Homo sapiens: one gene and its partners. The protein of the gene in region 2 purifies or fractionates together with the protein of the main gene of each other region. This does not show direct contact. Each region holds a gene or a part of one and is shown on either strand. Other genes may lie near its edges.

Evidence for each region. Proteins that work in one complex are often made in the same cells at the same time.
Region 1: the proteins of SPART (region 2) and HECW2 purify together in Homo sapiens (affinity purification with mass spectrometry; 2 studies listed by BioGRID and IntAct, with this or other methods). This does not show direct contact.
Region 3: the proteins of SPART (region 2) and POLK purify together in Homo sapiens (affinity purification with mass spectrometry; 2 studies listed by BioGRID and IntAct, with this or other methods). This does not show direct contact.

Annotation. Positions count from the first base shown.
Region 1 is NC_000002.12:196,583,554-196,590,582, forward strand, and holds part of HECW2 (E3 ubiquitin-protein ligase HECW2), read right to left. Parts: intron 1-7,029. UniProt on the Homo sapiens protein: E3 ubiquitin-protein ligase that mediates ubiquitination of TP73. Acts to stabilize TP73 and enhance activation of transcription by TP73. Involved in the regulation of mitotic metaphase/anaphase transition.
Region 2 is NC_000013.11:36,329,391-36,336,419, forward strand, and holds part of SPART (spartin), read right to left. Parts: intron 6,969-7,029; exon of another isoform or gene 6,897-6,968; intron 6,443-6,896; 5' UTR 6,441-6,442; coding exon 5,631-6,440; intron 2,207-5,630; coding exon 2,009-2,206; intron 128-2,008; coding exon 1-127. UniProt on the Homo sapiens protein: Lipophagy receptor that plays an important role in lipid droplet (LD) turnover in motor neurons.
Region 3 is NC_000005.10:75,591,863-75,598,891, reverse strand, and holds part of POLK (DNA polymerase kappa), read right to left. Parts: intron 5,015-7,029; coding exon 4,843-5,014; intron 2,671-4,842; coding exon 1,714-2,670; intron 1,146-1,713; coding exon 1,103-1,145; intron 959-1,102; coding exon 874-958; 3' UTR 1-873. UniProt on the Homo sapiens protein: DNA polymerase specifically involved in DNA repair. Plays an important role in translesion synthesis, where the normal high-fidelity DNA polymerases cannot proceed and DNA synthesis stalls.

The DNA of each region.
Region 1 (7,029 bases), on a different chromosome or scaffold from region 2:
CTTTGAATAGCAAGGAGTTAGAAGACTTACGAAGGAAGAAAGTTCTGAGATGAGAGTTATCTGAATGAACTAGGCCTCCAAGACTTGACTTTCTGACATTTTAAAAGTCCAAAATGTTAATCTTTTAGTATCCTGTGTCAATTAATATCTGATCTATATAAATAACAACCCTTCATAATGGTCCATGAAGAAGAAATAGATGGTTCCTTTAGCCATTAGGCATTGGTTATTGAATATTCACTATGTGATCAATACTGGGCATTACACAGGGGCATCTGCCAAGTTTCCATATATTTAGAGTGCTTAAAATCTAGGTGGCAAGAAGACTAATGGAAAACAATAACTAGTGTACCACCTAAAACAGCAGATGATTAAGATTTTAATTGCTACAAACGAGTGATTCCCAAGAGGGTAGCATATCAGCATCTGGGTGGAAGGCTAAACACACTGTCTCCCAACTCCTCCTATAAGATACTTACTCCACCCTTACTCTTACTGTCAATCACTGACAAGGGAAACTACACTGAATTCCAGGAATGGCATATTCTTCAGAAGGATGAGGTGGGAAAAATGACAAAAACCACTGTTTTTAAATTGCATACAGAAGGGCAATGGAGACCTGGGGCCTGAAAGAGTAAGTAGAAGTGGTGGGCATTCCAGGTGGGAGTTGCTTCCTGTGGTAAAAGTACTGAGGTGGAGATGAGTCTAGGGTATTTATGGGACAGGAAGAAGACCTGTCTAATTAAAGTAAACTAGAGTGTCCCACTCACCATCACCCTATTTTTAGTGGAGGAAGCATGGAAACTATCTCCTAAAAACCTGATGACCACCTGTTAAAAACACTGAAGAGATATTTCTTTACAGAAAGGCTAAACTAGTTTACCTCTCAGATCCTTTCCAATTTTTCCTCAAGTGCAGAACAAAATTCTGATTCTTCTCCAACCCATAATTCTAAATTGAATCACTTGTCTTGCCTGCTGTTGACCATGGCAGACAAGTGAAGAGAATGTGGATGTGTAAAACTCCCTATAAATTAAAAAAAAAAAAACCTAAATCACTGCATTAGGTTAAGCATTCCATTGCTGCTTAGCATCCCCAGTTCTCTAAGACTGTTCTCATAGGGCTATTTTCAACTCTGTCATCAATCATCTTTGTTACTCTTCCCTGAACCCTTTCCAAATTATCCTCATCCTTCTTATATAGGCAAGTGATGAATTACACTTCAGGTTTTCCCTGAGCACTCCATCTAAAGGAAGTCTCAGTTACACAACATTCTCTGCCAAAGCCCACCTCGACAAAGCACTTAATGTACTTCCAACTAGGTTTTTTCATTTGTTGCTTATGAAATATTTAAAATATACATTTAGAAGTTCATATTGTTAAGAAGTTAATATAACAGTAGCCCATATACCAAATATTACTTCCTTAATTTATGGTCAATGTGGACATCTAACTCTCTAATAAAAAAAATTCATAGTCTAAGATTGTGGCATATGGTTTTACTTGCTAATAATTTTCCCTTCCTTGTTTGTCTTTGCCATGATTCACTGTGGCCTAAGTATATTACTGAGGTATACCATACATACCAACGCCCAGATTTAACAAACATTAATATTTTTGCCTTGTTTTGCAATTATATACTTATTTATTTATTCATATATGTGTGGCCTGTTTTCCATTAGATTCTGTCTTATCTGGACAGAGCCATGTCTGATTATTAACCTCTTTTATACCCATTACTTAGCATAGAGCCTGGCATATAAGGTTCAATGAATAATGCATGAATGACTTTTGTCCTAGTATTAAATAAGGGCCATCACAATGGATGACTTATTAAACAAAAGACAATGATTCCATCTTTATTAAAAGTCCAAAGAGGGGAAAAAGGAAATGAGTCTTTATTAAAGAATGGGGTTTACATTTAAATGCATGCTATAGCTGGATATCGGACATTAGGATGAGTTAGTTGAGCAAGGTACAGAACTTCCCTTCCCTAGGGGCTCCTTTCCCTTGTTCCCTGAATAGCACATATATCTGCCTAGATAACAGTGATACAGAAGATGAGCTCTTCTAGCTCGTGTAGCTTAGAGATGCCAACTCAATGGCTTAAAGAAGGAGAGAACAAAGGAGGAGAAGGAGAAAGAGAAGAGAGGAAAAAATGGAGGGAGGAAGGGGTGGGGGCCTATACGGAGGGTATCCAATACCACTATAAGACCAGAAGAAATCATTCATTTTTTCTAGATTATGCCAATGGCAATAAAGATTATGTCCTGAAAACCTTAGAGTATGAAGTCCATTTGGATAAAATGAAGTGAAGCCTAAGGCAAAAACTTAAGAAAGATCATATCCAACTGTCAGAGAAATCTGACAGTTTTCTCTACCTCCTTCAGCCTGTACTCCCTGCCACCCAATATCTTCATGCAAAATCCTAAAAGTCTGGGTCCCTCCTGCCATGGTTCTCTACATGCTCTCAAATACCAAATATACACTCGTGTCTACTCCCCATCAAAACTTACTGGGTCTAAGTTCTATTACTTTGAGCTCTTATTCTTCTAGCAGGTCACTGAGAGATACTATGCTTATGATATAAATGGCTGTCTATTACTGAAAATATCACTTCCTTAATTTACAGTCAATGTGAACTTCCAACTCCCTAATAAAAAATTTCATAGTCTAAGATTGTGGCATATTGTTTTATTTGTTAATAATTCTCCCTTCCCTCTCTGTCCTTGCCACAGTTCACCACGGGCTAAGCATATGACTTAGGTATACCACTTGATATAACACAAATCATTTCTAATCACTGTCATAAGGAAATGTTTTTCTTGCTCCAAAGATATCTTACTCCACAGATAAAATATTACACGAGCACCTTTCCACTATGCAGCTAGCATATGTCAGCTTGGGGAAGCAGTCTTACACTCACTGCCCATCACTTTGCACAGCAAACTCACAGACACAGGGGCCACAGTTTGGTTGAATCCATAGTTTCCACTGTTTCTTTTTGTATTTCCTCAAGATCAGAGGGTATTACGTCTTCTCCATGAAGTGGGTAGCATGTGGATTGGCTTCTTTCTAAGTACAACTCCTTTTCTTCATGAAGCCATCACCTTATCTGTACCTGAGCCCAGTACCCTGTCAGTTCTGTCCCGAGCAACTTTTCCACTCTCATGAATAATGGTTAACCAAAAAAAAAAAAACAAAAAAAAACTCTTCCTATAGCACAAGTTTTCAGTGACAAATGAACAAAAGCATCACCGAGCACTCATTTCTGAACAAATGCCAAAAGCTGATTCATTCTCTGCATGACATCGGTGGTTTCATCCAACCATAAAGTGAAATATCTGCTAGCGTGCACTTGATAGTAATCGCTCTTCCACACTCCACTCCACTGATATTATGCCACAGCCAACCATGTTATTTGACAAAGGAGTTTTGTCAATAACTTCTGGTTTCTCTCTAAGGATAATGTTTGTCTTTAACTTTCCAGCTGATTTTCCAAGTGTCTCTTCAATAATATGACTCATACTTATTTTGCTACAAGGATCCTTTAATGATGCTAATAGAATTATAATCTCTTACCTACCTTTAGCCATATAATACATTAATTTTATAAAGGAAAGCATTATTGTGTGCCTGTCCTAGAAAACTTCAATAGTATAACAGAGAAGCCACTGTGCTTTGTTCGAAAATGACACAAAAACATCCATGGCTTCATGCCACTATTGGACAAAGTTTCATAACAGGCAACGATTACGGATTCATTTGGTCCTAATGGGGATAGCAAGTCCAATAAAAAATAGTTTTGAGATAGTCATTGTCATATTTCCATTTGCACTTTTCAATTTCAGCTACTGTTCTGAAATTGTCACTCTCAGAGATTCCCTTGTCTCTATACATACATATTCCCATTTTATATGCAGTGGGATTCAGTTCTCTAAGTATGTTTATGGTATTCTGAAATGTAGCATTTACAGTACTATTTTCATCACTATTTTTACACTTCAATGAACTACTTTTGAACCACTTATCTAGTTTTGTGAAATGGGAATACAATTTAAGAACAGCAAAAACAAAAAATATTCTTTTAACAAATAAAAAATAAGTAAATGATATAAAAATTATATTAACAAACATGAAGTGGACCATTAACAAAATGTAAGCTATACGCACTCACCAGTGCAGTCTTTGCAGCACAAATACAATCTTAAATATTATAATAAGTTTTAAGAACATAAGGGGATGTCTGCTGAAATCATAATTAAATGGCCTATCTCAAGGCCCTACAGGCTTTGCAACACCCACACCACCCTTCTGGTCTCATTTCTGACTTCCCCCTTGTCATTCCACCCCATCATGCTGATCTTGCAAATCTTTGAACATATCCAAACACATTCTTTTCTCAGGGCCTTTGCACTGGCCATCCTGCAACTCTATCCCTCAGGTATTTGTATTAAGCAACTTCTCTTACCTTCCGTTAACTCTTTGCTTAAGGTCTCTTTCTCCATGAAGCCTACTCAACCACACTTACCCTGTCCTACTTTCTCTTTCTTCCAAAGCACTCATCTCCTTCTAGCATCATATATAATTTAGTTATTTGGTTTATTATCTGTCTCCCACCTCCCACCTGCCTGCCCCCAACAGAATGAAAACTCTACAAGGTCAGAGATCTTTGTTTTATTCATTGATATATTCCCAGCACCTAGATCAGATACTAACCCGCAGATGGAGCTCAATACATATTACTTGAATGAACAAATAAATGAATGGATGAATGAATTAAATTTTTTCATTGCTTTTCCCTTCTAACCACCAAACTGCCTATGGATCTTACTTTGAGAATTAAAAAGAAAATGATAAGCCATCAGAGGTTTTTAAGCAAAAGAATTATATCAATAGAATGGTATTAAAATAGACAAGGTCAGGAGATGATTTAAAGTTTGGAGAGGCTAGATCCAAAGAGTTTAGTTAAAAAGTCAACCAATGAAAGAGATAAGGAAGGGCATAAATTTCCAATTACCAGGACTTCTTAAGTGGTTTATTTCAAACCTACAATTCACATATCCATAGATACATTATCAATGTTTATCTATACATACATTGCATACACACACACACACATATACGTTGAACAAGACTAGAAGAAGCTAAGGACATTTCTCATCATATGGATATAATACATATACAAGCTTATCACTTGAGTCATAGTTAGAACAGCCATAAATCCTAGTTTTCCTGGCACAGTCTCAGTTTATACTTGTTGATCTAATGCCCCTTCCAGTTAGTACCATATTTTACTCTCAAAAGTGTCCTTGTCTGGATTTTTTTAAATTACATAGTCATCCTACTTATAAAAAAGATACATAGGCCGGTCACGGTGGCTCACACCTGTAATCCCAACACTTTGGGAGGCCGAGGAGGGTGGATCATTTGTCAGGAGTTCAAGACCAGCCTGGCCAACATGGTGAAATCCTGTCTCTACTAAAAACACAAAAATTTGCTGATGGTAGTGGTGCGTGCCTGTAATCCCAGCTACTTGGGAGACGGAGGCATGAGAATCGCTTAAACCCAGGAGGCGGAGGATGCGGTGAGCCAAGATTGCACCACTGCACTCCAGTCTGGGCAACGGAGTGAGACCCTGTCTCAAAAAATAAATAAATAAATAAATTTCTTCTTATTTAGACATGCTGACCAAGCTTTTGAGGACTTCAGTGGAGTGAGTTTGGGAAAGGTGACAGCCATAATTAATTATAACATCCACTGGCCAACATAGTAAGTGAGCTGTGTTACAAACACACAATTCTTTGGTAAAGGAGCATAGCAACTACTGCAGAAGCAAATGCCACAAACTTCATATATCTAAGTTGGGTAAAGAATCCAAACCCTTGCCAGGTCACCTGCACAATCTCAAACCCCCAAGAGAATTTTCATGTGGTGAACAGACACAACAGTTCTCCCTCTCTGCGACCCCTCTGTATGAAAAGCTGAGACCCAAACCAAACACTGGAGACACAAGGGAGTACAGAAAACAAAAGCCCTCCTATTATCCTCATGGCCCTGAGAGCTTGGAAACTAAGAGAATGTGGAATCAAGTCTTCACAACAACACTTGTGTTCTGGAATCTCAGTAAATATCCAAGATCTGGACCAGACACTAGATCTTGAAACTTGCATTCCTACCTCTAAGAGCCATGGTAACCACTAGGTCTGCAAACAGGTTTTGTAGAAACTGCTCTCCCAAATCAAAGGATTTGTCCCAATTAGTGTCAGCTCTAGATATATGGACAGGTGTTAATTCATATTGTGCTTGAAGACAATAATAATATGGGCTTACAGCCACGGCAGATGCTTAGTAACTTAAGAATAAAACTATTTTATTCACTATGTGTGTAAATAGATGACAAGCAATTATCTCATTCTCCTATCTTCCTTCCTCCTATTTCATTTTTTCTTATATATTTTTCAGGTTTAAATTTTTCTGATTTTCTAGCTTTGCATTTAATAAATAAAAGACTGAAATAAGGCAAGACTCAAAATCTGGTGTCGGAAGAGGGGTGATGAAAAAAATTCAGGATTCCTTAATATCTAGGGTGACCAGATAATTATCACCCAAACCAGGACACTTTTACATGTGAAAGGGGGTGCTTTTGATAATTAAGATAAACCAACAGGAGTAAACTGGCACTGTCACAAGCAAAGCAGGGCATCTCGTCACCTTTCTAATCTCTCATTCATATCCTGATACAAAAGGCATCCTGTGTGTAATGAAGCAACCTCTGCCTCTGTTAAATCAATCAAACTTCAAACATAGTCCTCCCTCTTTCAGGCCAGGCCTGGCTTTTGATAACAGAGCTGGAAAGGTTTTCACCCAATGCTGCCATTCCCTATCCAACACACCAAGCAAAACTGGTTCCAGTTTTTCCCAAGAAAGTAGTCAGCAATGCACAAGAATGTGGATCCAGGCCAGGCCCACAGCAAGCCCCAGGCGAGAAGCCTCTGGTTTCTCTTAAAGGAACACTTCACAACAGAG
Region 2 (7,029 bases):
CATCCTTATTGCCTTGGTCCAACTGTTTCACATCAGTGCCAGAGGCTTCTTTTAGTTGGTCAGAGGAGGGTCTAGTTCTTCCAGGGATTTGGAATTCATTTTCTTCTTCTGCTCTGTTCCAGTTGGCCTAGAGAATAAAGGTTTAAGCTTAACTCTAATCAGAATTTTTCTTAGATGGCTTTCTGCCAGCTATATTACACCATGCTCAAATGACATACTTGTTTGAATGTCAGTTTGGCAGTCTATCAGTAACAACTACTTTTGCTTTTTTCTCTACGATTCTCTTTTGTTTCATCACCAAACCCCAAACCTCTGAGTTCTTTGGTTCATAGCATATGCCTAAGTAAGTTTCAAAAGACAACGTGTAAAAGACAACTTATAGCAGTTGTTGGTATAAGTTATCTTTGAATCAGATGCAGCTACATTTAAATTTAATTAATGAATAAATTTTAGTTAACATGTACAAGAGAAAGTGAATTTAAAGGCAATTAACAAAACTCATGTCCATTTCATTATGCATTATTGGAAGGTTTATTTTTTAATTTTCTGCACAATATACACTTTGCTGAATGAATGCTTAAGAGTAAAAACCAGTCAAAATTATAGCTAGTAACTAGCTTATGTTTACAGTTGAAGTTCTGGGACAGTAAAGCAAGCTAAAAATAACATACAAATACCAAAAAATTAAATTGAAGACAGAAAATAAACATACAACCTAAAAGTCTGCTTAGTTTCTTTCCTAAAGCCCAGTAATACAGGTCCAGTTAACGTAGGGGTGAAGGGAGAAATAGTTCCACATTAGGTCTGTGAATACTTAAGAGCATCATTTCACTCAGTAAACAGTGAAGTGAAGATGAACTCCTTCATTTGACCATATTCCTGCCTTTGTGAATTCCTCCTCACAAGTACAATGAGGCTACACACTTCTGTATGCTGATCATGTATTTTGTTAAATAATTGCTGCTATGCTAAAGTATTGGTTTGTTGACCACCAGGTAGGTCATTCTCGGGTGAACAGGGGCTGATTTTATATTTTCATACACACACACACACACACACACACATCCCCCACACCTTCGTGGTCTCCTGTTCTCATACTTTGCCCATCCCATCACTTAACACAGTAACTGGTTAAATAATGAATTCCAAGTATCTGCTGATTGAAGGAGAGAATAAAAGATTATACTATTATAATGCCCACCTCATTCAACCCCTGATGACTGTCAATATTCATAATCAAAAATACTTTTTCCCTCTTGCTACAACAATATATAAAGAAAGTCTCTCCATAATACTCTATTCAAGTTCCCTGTTAAACAGAAATACTCTATTTCTACAGGTACGCATGTGGGCAGAGGAAACATGCCAAATAAGGAAAGTTCCAGGATGATCATATTTTAAATCATATTTTCTTTTTATTTTTTTATTTGGCCTTCATTTACCACAAGAACAAAGATAATTATCTCAACCAAAGCCTGTTTCTTCCTCAGAATGCCAACCATACCCCTTAAAATGTCCAACATAACCTATCTACTAAAGCTAAAATTATCTTCATGTCACCATTTAGACCCATTAGTACACTTTTCCAGCTGAGCAATAAAACAGTGGTGAAAACAATAGCTAACATTCACAGAGCATAACTACTCGTTCTGATATAAGTGCTTAATGTATTAATTTTTAATTTTCACCACAGCCCAATGAAGTGGACACTGTTATTATCCCCATTTTATAAGTAAATTAAAGTATAGAGAAGATCAGGAACAGCTGAGCTAAACGGTCATTAAGTGGAAGAGTTTGAATTCATATACAGGCAATTTGACTCTAGAGCTCACAATCTTAACCACTATTACAGCAAATTCCAAGCATGTAGTTGTGAACACACAAACAAATGGTGAACTGTCAGTCTCCTAACCTTGATTACAGTAGAGGTTATTACAATTTCTCTAAAAGCTGAAGTGCTTATGTTAAAGTAGATTTTTTTCACCCTAAAGATGATCACACAAGTTACCTGGAGCCGAAGGTCAGACATTTGCCTTAACAGATCCTCAAAGAGCTCTCTATCATCCTCTGGTAACTCAGAGGACAGGACGACCCCCACAAAGCATCCTGCTGCTTGTAGCATTGTATCAGGAAACATGTAGGCTCCCGCAGTACATTTCAGAACCGGAGATCTATCAGGAACTAGAGGATATAACCAGTCACAAACCTGAAAGGATTCATTAGAAGAAAAAAAATATACATATAAATAAATGAAACTAGATTTTCATTTATGTTTTAATAAAATTGTTATACTAGAAAATAAACACTTCAAAGTTGGAAACATATTTTAAAAGGCTTTAAGAAACATCAACATCAACAAATCCCCAAGAAAATTAATCATTTGCTAGTCTGATCTTTCTGCAATAAGGACTGTGCTAAATGTGCCATGGCTCCACTAATTATACAATCTTAAAGCTGATGGCCTTAACTAGCCTAGTGTTAACCAATAATGACTCCAGCTTTAAATAAATAATAATCAAAGTAAATTAAGGTTTTCGTTATTGAAATCAGATATTCCTTTTGTGGTAAATAAACTATTTTCAGATATTATTTACTTGAAATATTTACTGAAATAATAGTATTTACTGATTTAATCCTCCTAACAATCCTATGAAATCAGTTACTATTATTGTCATTTTATGTACAAGAAAATTGAGGCACAGAGAGGTCAATTAAGTCGCCCAGAACCAACAACTAAAAAGTGGAGCTTGGATTTTAACACATATAGTCTGGACCAGAGAAGCTGAACAAGTATTTTAATTAGAAACCCAGCACTCACAGGCCGGGCACAGTGGCTCACACCTATAATCCCAACACTCTGGGAGGCCAAGGAGAGGTGGGGGGATTATTTGAGGTCAGGAGTTCAAGACCTGCCTGGACAACATGGTGAAACCCCCATCTCTACTAAAACTACAAAAATTAGCTGGGGGTGGTAGTGCATGCCTGTAATCCTAGCTCCAGCTCCTTGGGAGGCTGAGGCAGGGGAATCACCTGAACCTGGGAGGTGGAAGTTGCAGTGAGCCAAGATTGTGCCACTGCACTCCAGCCTGGGCAACACAGCAAGACTCTGTCTCAAAGAAAAAATAAATGAATAAATAAGAAATTCAGCACTCACTCACAACATGGAATAATTTTTTGTACTAAACCCAAGAGAACCTGACATAACAGAATAGATTAAGTTAATGTTTATGGATTATCTATCTATTGTGAAATTAAAAGCAAAATAACAAAAGCTCTCCTGCAATGTCATCTGCGGAGGTCGGCTTGCCAGTACATACACAGACATAAGCTCACATCCTGGCTGCCTAATTTATTTCTAATGCAATACATTCTTTGAGAAACCAAAATATAACTGTGCTCAACATCAAAACAGTCTTACCCACAAACTTTTAACATTTGAGTAGTTATTTATTTTAATATGTATGAGAAAAATACATATTTCCCTTAATTTCAGTTATTATTAAGATAAAACTGACAAGTGGGACAATTTAGTAAAAATATAAAGCAAGTAATAGCAGTGGTATAGAGTTGACAAAAAAATTGTAAAAGTTATTCTAAAATAAAACTTAGGAAAGGTTTTTCTTTTTTTTTTCTTTTTTTTAAACTATTCCATGGTTTCTTTCAGATTATCTATATCCTGGTCACCTTAATTGAACTGCAATATCACCAAATTGTCTTTAAAAAAACCAACACTTTATAGACCTTTCCTAGGACAGGATATTACAGATAAGTGAGTCATCCACCATAGGCTGATTTTTCCCAGTTTCATTTTCAGAGGGCAATCTCATGTCCAATTTCTGTAATTATAGATTTAACAGGTTTAAAAAGTATTTGGTATTAAAACTAAAACCAAAAGAAAAATCTTTTTTTGAAGTTCCAGAATTCTATCTACCTAAAACCAAAAAAACTTAATTTCCTATTTAGACCAATAGTGATTTTAACAGTGATTTTTAGCACAGGAAATATCTAACTTCTAGTATTTAGTTGGATTATTATTGTATTTTTTTTTTTTTTTTGGATAAAAACATTCAGTAAACACATATGTTAACTCCTTTTAAGGACACTCTGCTACAAATACCTGAATACAAGCAAATGAGAACCTCTTAAAGAGACTCAAATTAAATTTTGGGTGCAATTTTACTTTTCGTTTAGGACAAAAAATACACATGAGAAAGATTAAAAACAAAATTAAATGCACTAAGGACAAATTTGTATTAAAGTACAAGTCATTTCAATGGATGAGTGAATGTAACCACGGTACAGTATTTCTGCCATTCACTACCCCATCTCCAGTTGCTAAGGACCCAAAGATTTTTTATTCCATCATTACAGTGCAACACTATTAGTAGAAACTGTTATAGCTTTTATCACCCGCCACTACAAACCCCAATCAATAAGCCTACTCTTTGTAACCTTAAGGCTCCTTCCTTAAAATAATCTACAGGATTCACAATATTCTTTCTGTCCAGTATCAAATATTTCCTTTCAATAATGCCCTCAAAGTATCTCCCTCACACATCCCTAGCAAGCCTCGAATTGTCTTTAAACAACTTTCAAGTTGACTTCATATAAAAACTACATAAGAATCAACAGGAGAGAATACCAAAAGAGAAAATGAATAGAGATAAGCTGTGCTATTACTAAACCACATTATTTGGACTGTGGACAAAACATCTGTTTTGCTTAAATAGTGATCTTTCTTCAATGCAAACTCCTTTGTTATATTCAACGTATACTGAGTCCTCATTTCAAGAACTCATCTTCCTATACCTACATCCAATCTTTTAAAACGAGACTGTCACTGGACCACTCTCTTCAGAGTACCTCACTAAATCCACAGCAATGCCCTGACATCAATCTTTATGTAGCACTCTTTACTCTTAGACCAAGTGCATTCTGGTAAATTTCTCTGCTTGGACTGTTGGAATTACATCTTAAATTATCACCACAGTCTCGACTTCTAAACCAAGGTCTCTCAACCTTGGCATAGTTGAGATTTTGGGCAGGATAATTTTTTTTTGTTCATGAGGGCTGTCCTGTGAAAATGTGTGGCAGCATCCGTGGCCTCTATCCACTATGCCAGTAGCAATCAACTTCCAGTATGACAACCAAAAATGCCTCCAGACATTGTCAAATGTTCTCTGGGGAGGCAAAACTACCCTGGGTTGAGAACAACTGTTCTGGACCATGGGCTCGGTCTCTCCCAGTTCAGACCCTCAGCTGAGTCTTGACAACATTTGTGAATATTTACAGCTATACATCCACAGGAATTACATAAATCCCTTTCGAAATTAAACTTATTAGATTTCTTCTTCAGATAAAGAATTAAAAATGTAAGGATGACCACTCTTCTCAAGTTTTATCATCACAAACTTAATACCAAAATAAAACTATTAATATATCTTTTTTAAAAAAAGAAAAAGACAAACACAAACATGTTCAAGGCTCATAATTTCATGGAATATATTTAAAAACAAAGTAGAATTTGTCGTTATCTTTTTGCACTTATACTGGACACATAAACATTAACAAATAAAAATGATGTAGTCTACACGTATTTCAAATTATGCTTTCATTTTTCTTTCGCTTACCTGAAGAAACCCGGGAGGACGGTTTAGAACCGTATCGAGAGAATTATCCAAAAACCTCACAATTCGAAGGTACCCAGGATACGAAGGTGCACTAACCTCCCCTGCAGGATTTACAAAAAAAATCTGTACTCCATTTGGTATCAAAATCAATTCATCTGCATCCAGCCCTAAGGTCTCAAGAGGCGGTGGCTGAGAATGATTCCTATAAAACTCCTCTCCAACTGATGAAAACTCCCCAGAATCTGTTCCATAGGATACAGTGTAGTGACCTTCAGCAGCTTGAGGAGTATAAGCAGGAGGAGCTTCTGCTGGACAACTTTGTGATGGTAAAGACAGAGAAGCAGGTGCAGCAACTGCCCCTGCACTTGGAGTTGAGGTGTTTCCATTTACTTCAGCATGCTGAGGAGCTGAACTAAAAGACTGAGGCTCTGGTAATTTTTCACACATGTCTTTAGGTGGAAATTCTGGATATAACTTGGGCACCTCCTGAAGATCATTCTGCAGAGAAGTGGCAAGACCCTTCTCTAGAATTTCCAGCCTGGTGCGTACATTCTGTAGAGTTTCTTTCATTTTCTGTTGCATCTGTCTAGCAGATTCCCACCCAGGACCTGTGTGTTCAGACTCTTTTGATGAAATGCTGATCCCTCTGAGCAGGTGTCCTATTCCTTGCTTATAGTAGTTCTTTGCTTCTTCCTTCTGACCTAATTCATCTGTATTCAGACCTTTGTTAACAAATAAAAAGGCCTTCTTATATGCTTCTCTGATGATCTTAATTTCAGCAGGTTCTCCATTTTGTGGCTCTTGCTCCATTTCTGCAAAATTGGAGACATATTTAATTATCTTGCTTAGCTATTGTTTACTTATGATTCGTATCTCCTACCTGAATATATTTTAAGAGGACAAGTGCCTCGCTTATCTCTGTTTTGTTCACTATTATACTATCCTTTAAGCCTACTATTAGGTCTGTCATAAAGAAAGCACTTAACATGTATTTGATGAATGGATAAATAAATGAAAACTCTTGGTCCAAAATATCTTAATTTAAAAACATAAGAGAATAAATCAGAATACATCTATTAAATAATTTTCTTGTTCTGGTTTCTTATAATAGTTTCCTATCATACATCCTTATGGTTGAAACAAGAGTCTCATTCTAAAATTCATTATAATATAAATCCAGATTATATCCAGCCAATAAAAAATGAATTGAATCATAGACTGGGGAAAACAGAAATGAGAAAAAAAAAGTGAATGAAACTTTGTTACCTGATTTCCACTTAAAGGTGGCAGGTTACCCCACACAGCCCTGTTGCTTCCCCAAATCCCACTAAGATGACTCTGGAAAGATTATGAAAAAGGAACAACCATTTTTCTTAGTGAGAAAAATACATGAATAGGC
Region 3 (7,029 bases), on a different chromosome or scaffold from region 2:
CTACTATTAAGCTGTCTTCTTTCACAAATATTAATAAAAGTACTGATAGAAATGTAACTAAGATACATAATGTGTTTTAATACACATTAATCTTTTGAATTACACATTTTCTCTTGAGGATTATAATAAAATGATGGTACAATTTATCCTTCTTTATAGATTTGTGGAAAGTACCAACATAATTGACAAGAAATGAAATACTGCCATTTAAAAGTCCTGTATTAAAATAAAACTACTTTGAATCATCTTAGACTAAATATTTTAAAAACTGATTCAAGTGCTTATTCATAAGATAATGGAATTTTAAATAAGAAAAGCCAAATTAAAAATTATATTTTAGGCAAAAACCATTTTAACACAGATAATACTGTGATATTTATTTTCCTGAAGAAAACCACTTATGCTAGTTACATTAATACTCTTCATAGAACTTAAGATAAATTTTAATTATGAATGCTCATGAAGTATTTAAAGACACTAGGATCAATGCCAACAAAGTAGTTAAGTGCTGAAAAATTCTTATGATAATATAGGCATGTGTGAATCTTTGAGAGCCCTTACAAATGTTTTTATATTCAGTATAAAAATAATAAAAAAATCACCTTCTTATCCCATTCCTAATTTCCCTTTTAAGAATTATCTCTTAACAGGATTGATTTCCAATTGATGTATAATGGAAGTAAAATTCTCATGGTTATAAAAAAGATACACAGAATCAGTATATGTATCTTAGAAAAGCAAACATCATCTGAGGAAGGATTATTGCACTTGCCTTCACTAAATAAATCTGCAAACTTAAAATCAGAAAGAACAAATTCATTGATTATAAAATAACTAGTTTCAATTAAAAATTAATGATAAAATGTTCAATGTTTACTTAAAAAATATATCAAGGGTATGTTTGGGATTGTTTGGTTTTATTTTCTTTGATGTTGAGTACTTTGTCATCAATCCTGGCCTAGAATGAAAAGGAACACACAATTAAAATGCAGGAAGAGATTCTAGAAAATAATTCATTTTTAATATTGATTACTTAATAATTTATAAAATAATTGAATTTTCATATTGTAGCCAGCTTTATTAAAGCTCAAATTAGCCATACCTTTTTGTTCTTGTTACAGCCTTCTGTACTCCACTTGAGCTACCTTTAGAGGAAAGAAAGTCAAGAAATTCCATAATGAATAATATGAAATAATTAAAAAGTTGTATACAAATTTAAAAAGTTAAAACTTATTGATTAAACTTCCTTAGTACTATATAGTTCATATGTAAACACACCAAAAACTATAATTTCTTTGTAATTTACTAATTTTATTAGCATTACACTTAATTTTATTGGTGAAATTTGGGTAGAGTCAGCACTACCAAAAAATAAGTTAAAGAGGCTTTCTAGTTATGCAGTTATAGTTAATTTACCACTGTGCCTTCACAGATGTTCTCTGAAGGAATTTGTTTGATTAGATCACTCAGCTCCTTAAACCTTTGAGTTCATTCTGTGCTAAATCAAGATCAAACCAAAGTTTTCCCCAAATTCACAATCTACAGGCTTGAGTTAATTCTAACCTATGGCAATGTAACCAACATTTCCCTAAATGGCGGCATACACAAACTACCCATTTAATAGTATATGTTTCAGATTTAACAACAATCTCATTAATTTTAATAATACATATTCCTAGAAAATCATGCAGTTTAAAACAATTACACACTTACCAGTACTTCTGGAGCTTTCTTTGGGTTGATTAACTGGGTTAAATTTATCCTTTCTTAATTCTTGGATAAAACTTTTATTTAAGCAAACATCCACATGCACATTGAACAGGGTTAGATCTGAAGTCTTTTGTTCTACGTTACAAACAGGACAAACTAGAGCTTGGCCTGTTTTCACTTCACATAAGTAAGGCTGGCGGTATTCTTGTCTAAATGATCCAACATCTTCGTTTTCCAATGAAACAGTAGAAGAAGAATTCTGATGACAGTGTTCAATATTAAAAGACTTGCTTGGGAGACTAGAACATTCTTCCTTGCTATGCTTATTACTTAAAGCATCTATGCTTTCTGCTTTAGATGAGTTATCTATAGTATCTACTAAAGCTATACAATCTACTGAAGATATTTCTTTAATTTTTGGATGGGCTTCATAATCTTGCTTCTCACAAAGTGAAGAAGCAGGAACATTTTCTTTCTTGTTAACTTTGGTAGCAGAAACATGTGAACACGAGAACATTTTAAAGTTTTCACTGATTGAAGGTCCATCAAGACATTCATCTACATGTTTATTCAAGGCTTCCAGACTGATGCACCCTTGAGCCCTAAAGCAAACAGGACAGGTAAGTATCTGACAGTCATCTGAATTCTCTGATATTTCCAAATTCTCATTCATCTTCTTCTTTAAAACTTGGAATGGTTGTGATGTCTGGAAACTTTGTTTATTCACGGCTTCACATTTAAATGTATCTTGGTGACTCCATTTCCTTTCTGATCGTTTTTTATCAAAGAAACTCTTCTTATGAGACATTTCTAGAGGTTTTACAAACTTATCTTTGTCAGTTTTCTCTAATGTACACTCAGTGGCTGACAGGGCTTGGTTTCCAGCCTGTAAAAAGCCAATAATGCTCCTTTGTTGGTGTTTCCTGTCCTCTTCATTGGGAAAACTAGATATCCGAACACCTAAATTAAACCAATCACAATCAATTTCAAATTGAACAAAGCCAATTCACTCACAATGCATAAAAACATTTTGTCTAGTGCTATGACATATACAAAAGGTTGGCTAGAGAGAAACTATAAGTAACATTTCAAAGCTGGTATTATAAGTACAGATTTACCTTCCTTTATAAAAGAATATCATTAAATATTAACTATTTGGAGTTAGTATAATGATGTAGGATTTTAATTCATATGTGACACATAATACCATTAAATTAATACCAGTAACTAACTGGAGTCAACTATACAGACTCTTTAGCTCTTTTTTTTCTAATAGACTTTATTTTTTAGAGGAATTTTAGGTTCACAGCAAAATTGAGCAGAAGGTACAATGAGTTCCCAAAGATCCCCTTTCCCTACACATGCACACCCCTCCACCACCCCAACTATCAACATGTGGCACTAGAGTGGTACATTTGTTACAATCTATAAACCTACACTGCCACAACATTGTCACTCAAAGTCCATAGCTTACATAGGGTTCACCCTTGGAATACATCCTGGGCGCTGGACAAATTTATAATGACGTGTCATTATAGAATCATACGGAATCATTTCATTGCCCTAAAATTCCTGTGTTTTGCCTATTTATACCTCCTGCCCCTCTTAACTCCTGACAATCAATTATTTTTTATGGTACTCATATTTGCCTTTTCCAGAATCTCATATGGTTGGAATCACACAGTATTTAGCTTTTTCAGACTGGCTTCTTTTACTTAACATTATGCAGTTAAGTTTCATTCGTGTCTTTTCATGAATTGATAATTCATTTATTTTCTGTGCTGAATATTATTCCACTGTCTGTATGTACCACAGTTTATTTATCCATTCACGTACCGAAGGACATCGTGCTTGCTTCAAAGTTTTGGCAATTATGAATTAAGCTTCTATAGATATCTGCTCTTGGGCTTTTTTTTTTTTTTTTTTTTTTTTTCTGAGGTGGAGTTTCACTCTTGTTGCCCAGGCTGGAGTGCAACAGCGTGATCTCAGCTCACTGCAACTTCCCGGGTTCAAGCGATTCTCCTGCCTCAGCCTCTCAAGTAGCTGGGATTACAGGTGCCCGCCACCATGTCCAGCTAATTTTTTGTAGTTTTTGTAGAGATGCAGTTTCACTATGTTGGCCAGGCTGGTCTTGAACTCCTGACCTCAGGCAATCCACCTGCCTTGGCCTCCCAAAGTGTTGAGATTACAGGCGTGAGCCACCGCGCCCAGCCTGGCTCTTTCAATTAACACTTTATTCAGTTGATTTCAGTGTGTGCTATATCTTTCATAAATAAAATTATGGCTAGTGACCCACTCCTTACTAGTAAAATGTGCATTTGGAGTGGTGATCCACATATATACTTTCAACCAGTACACTTTGGAAACATGGCTTGTTACTTTTTACCATGTAGTGGCTGGAGATGTGATTTCACAATGTCACAATCCTTTATCTGTAATTCCAAAATCCAAAAAGTTCTGAAAATTGTAAGCAACAAGTGATACCTGATGACTAAATTAATGTCATCAGTCTTTACAGTCTCTGAATATTTTGTTTTGCTACAGAAATATTAATGTGTTTGAACAGGGGGTGTTGCCCCAGATCCACAAAGAAGTATTACAACGTAATATACTCTACATGCACTGAATTTGCTTTCTAAAATCTGAAAAGTTTTGAATTTTGAAACACACCTGGCCACAAGAATTTCATTAAGTTATAAGGAAAATAACAACTTTAATTGACCCTTACTGGAATTAAACTAATGATCATGGCTTCACACATCAGGGTCTAATAACTAAGACAAATGGCAGCAGCAAAGGAAGAACTTCGTAAACAGGTTTAAGAAATAAAATGAAGGCGAGAATACAGGTGCTCATTGAGTTACAGTAGGATTGTATCCAGATAAACCCGCTGTAAATTGAAAACATAATAAGTCAATTTACAATACTTTCAATTTATGATGGGTTTATCGGGATGTAACCACCTTGTAAGTCAAGAGTGTACTGAAAGCATACAGCTTTCCCACTGTCGCAAAGTTGAAAAATCATTAAGTTGAACCATTGTTAAGTTGGGGGCCCCCTGTATTCCCAAAGTTGATTATTTGGGAAAATCTAGCAGATTTAAGGAAAAACAAAAAAATGAAAAAGTCATACCCATAAGCCTTAATCTCAAGGGATGTGGAAAATCAGCATCAATTTCTGTTTTTAGCAATTCCTTAGCAATGGCAAATATTTCTTCTGCAGTAGAAACAACAGATGAAACTGTAGATGCACGAGTTTTTACTTCAAAATTCACATTCTTCAACTTAATGGTAACAGTTCTACCCTATAACATATACAATATGTTATTTATTTATTTATGAGACAGGGTCTCTCTCTGTTGTCCATGCTGGAGTGCGCTGGCACAGCTGTAGCTCACTGCAGCCTTCAACTTCTGGGTTCAAGCAATCCTCTTGCCTCAGCCTCCTGAGTAGCTAAGATTACAAGTGCGTGCCAGTACACCAGCTAATTTTTTATTTTTTTGTAGAATCAGAGTCTCACTATGTTACCCAGGCTAGTCTCAAATTCCTGGCCACAAGCGATCCTGGCCTCCCAAAGTGTTGGGATTATAGGCATGAGCTACTGCACCCAACCAGAATACATTATTCTGTATGACTTCCTAACTTCTAGAAAAAAGTCATTTACATGTTAGAAAAATTCAGAAAGGTTTACGGACATAAGAATATGGAATTATAACCAATTATTTATAAAACATGGTGATAAACATATCATAAAGAATAAGAGGCCGGCTGCAGTGGCTCACGCCTGTAATCCCAGCATTTTGGGCGGGCGGATCACGAGGTCAGGAGTTCAAGACCAGCCTGGCCAACATGGTGAAACCCTGTCTCTAATAAAAATACAAAAATTAGCTGAGCGTGATGGCAGGCACCTGTAATCCCAGCGGCTGGGGAGGCTGAGGCAGGAGAATAGATTGAAGCCAGGAGATGGAGGTTGCATTGAGCCGAGATCACACCATTGCACTCCAGCCTGTGTGACAGGGCAAGACTCTGTCTCAGAAAAAAAAAGAATAATTAAAATACCATTTTAGCCAAAAACGTTTACTTCCCTTTCCAAACATAAGCTAAAATCCCATTTTATTTTGTTTTTGAGATGGGGGTCCCATTCTATTGCCCAGGCTGGAGTACAGTGGCATGATCGTGGCTCACTGCAGCTTTGACCTCCCAGGCTCATGCTATCCTCCTACCTCAGCCTCCCAAGTAGCTGGGACTACACACTCGTGCCACCATGCCCAGCTAATTTTTACATTTTCTTTGTAGAGACGTGATTTTGCTATGTTGTCCAGGCTGGTCTTGAACTCCTGGGCTCAAGCAATCCTCTGGCCTCAGCTTCCCAATGTGCTGGGATTACAGGCATGAGCCACTATGCCTGACCTAAAATCCCATTTTAGCCAGTAATTTTTATTCCCCTTCCCAACTGAATTTTTTTGTTTGTTTTTTTTTTTGTTGTTTTAGACAGAGTCTCACTCTGATGCCCAGGCTGGAGTGCAGTGGCGGGATCTTGGCTCACTGCAGCCTCTGCCTCCCAGGTTCAAGTGATTCTCCAGCCTCAGCCTCCAGAGTAGCTGGGATTACAGGTGCCCGCCACCATTTTTAGTAGTGATGGGGTTTCACCATGTTGGCCAGGCTGGTCTCAAACTCCTGACCTCAGGTGATCCCCCTGCCTTGGCCTCCCAAAGAGCTGGGATTACAGGAATGAGCCACCGTGCCTGGCCCCCCAACTGAATTTTTATAAAAGACCATTACAAGAGGGAAAGGTTAAATGATCACTTTTATTTTTACTGAATCTCTTTTGGAGGTTGATTAATTACCTACAAAGGAAGGAAAAAAATCTTTCTAAAAGTGTCTCACTGAAAACGACTTATGAATAGTTCACACTTATTGTGTGCCTTCTGCATTGCCAGATGCTATGCCAAACAATTTAATGTAAGAATTCCCTTTACACTTAGTGTTTTATGAGTGCAGGGTTTCAGTGGAGACAATGAAACAGTTCTAGAGATGGGTGGTGGTGATGGTTATAAAACAATATGAACTGTACACTTAAAAATGGTTAAAATGTAAATTTTATGTTATGTATATTTTAGTATCCCCTGGAGGAGGAAGTTAATTCCTGCTCTCTCTCATCTGAGGGTAGTTAGATTTACTGACTTACTTCCAAAGGGAAAAACACTAACTTCACAGTGGAGAAGCCTAGCAAACACTAACCAAGTGATGAAGGTTAATATCAACCATGACATCATGTGGCTATTATACACCCCATGATAGGATGTTATGAGAAGGACAC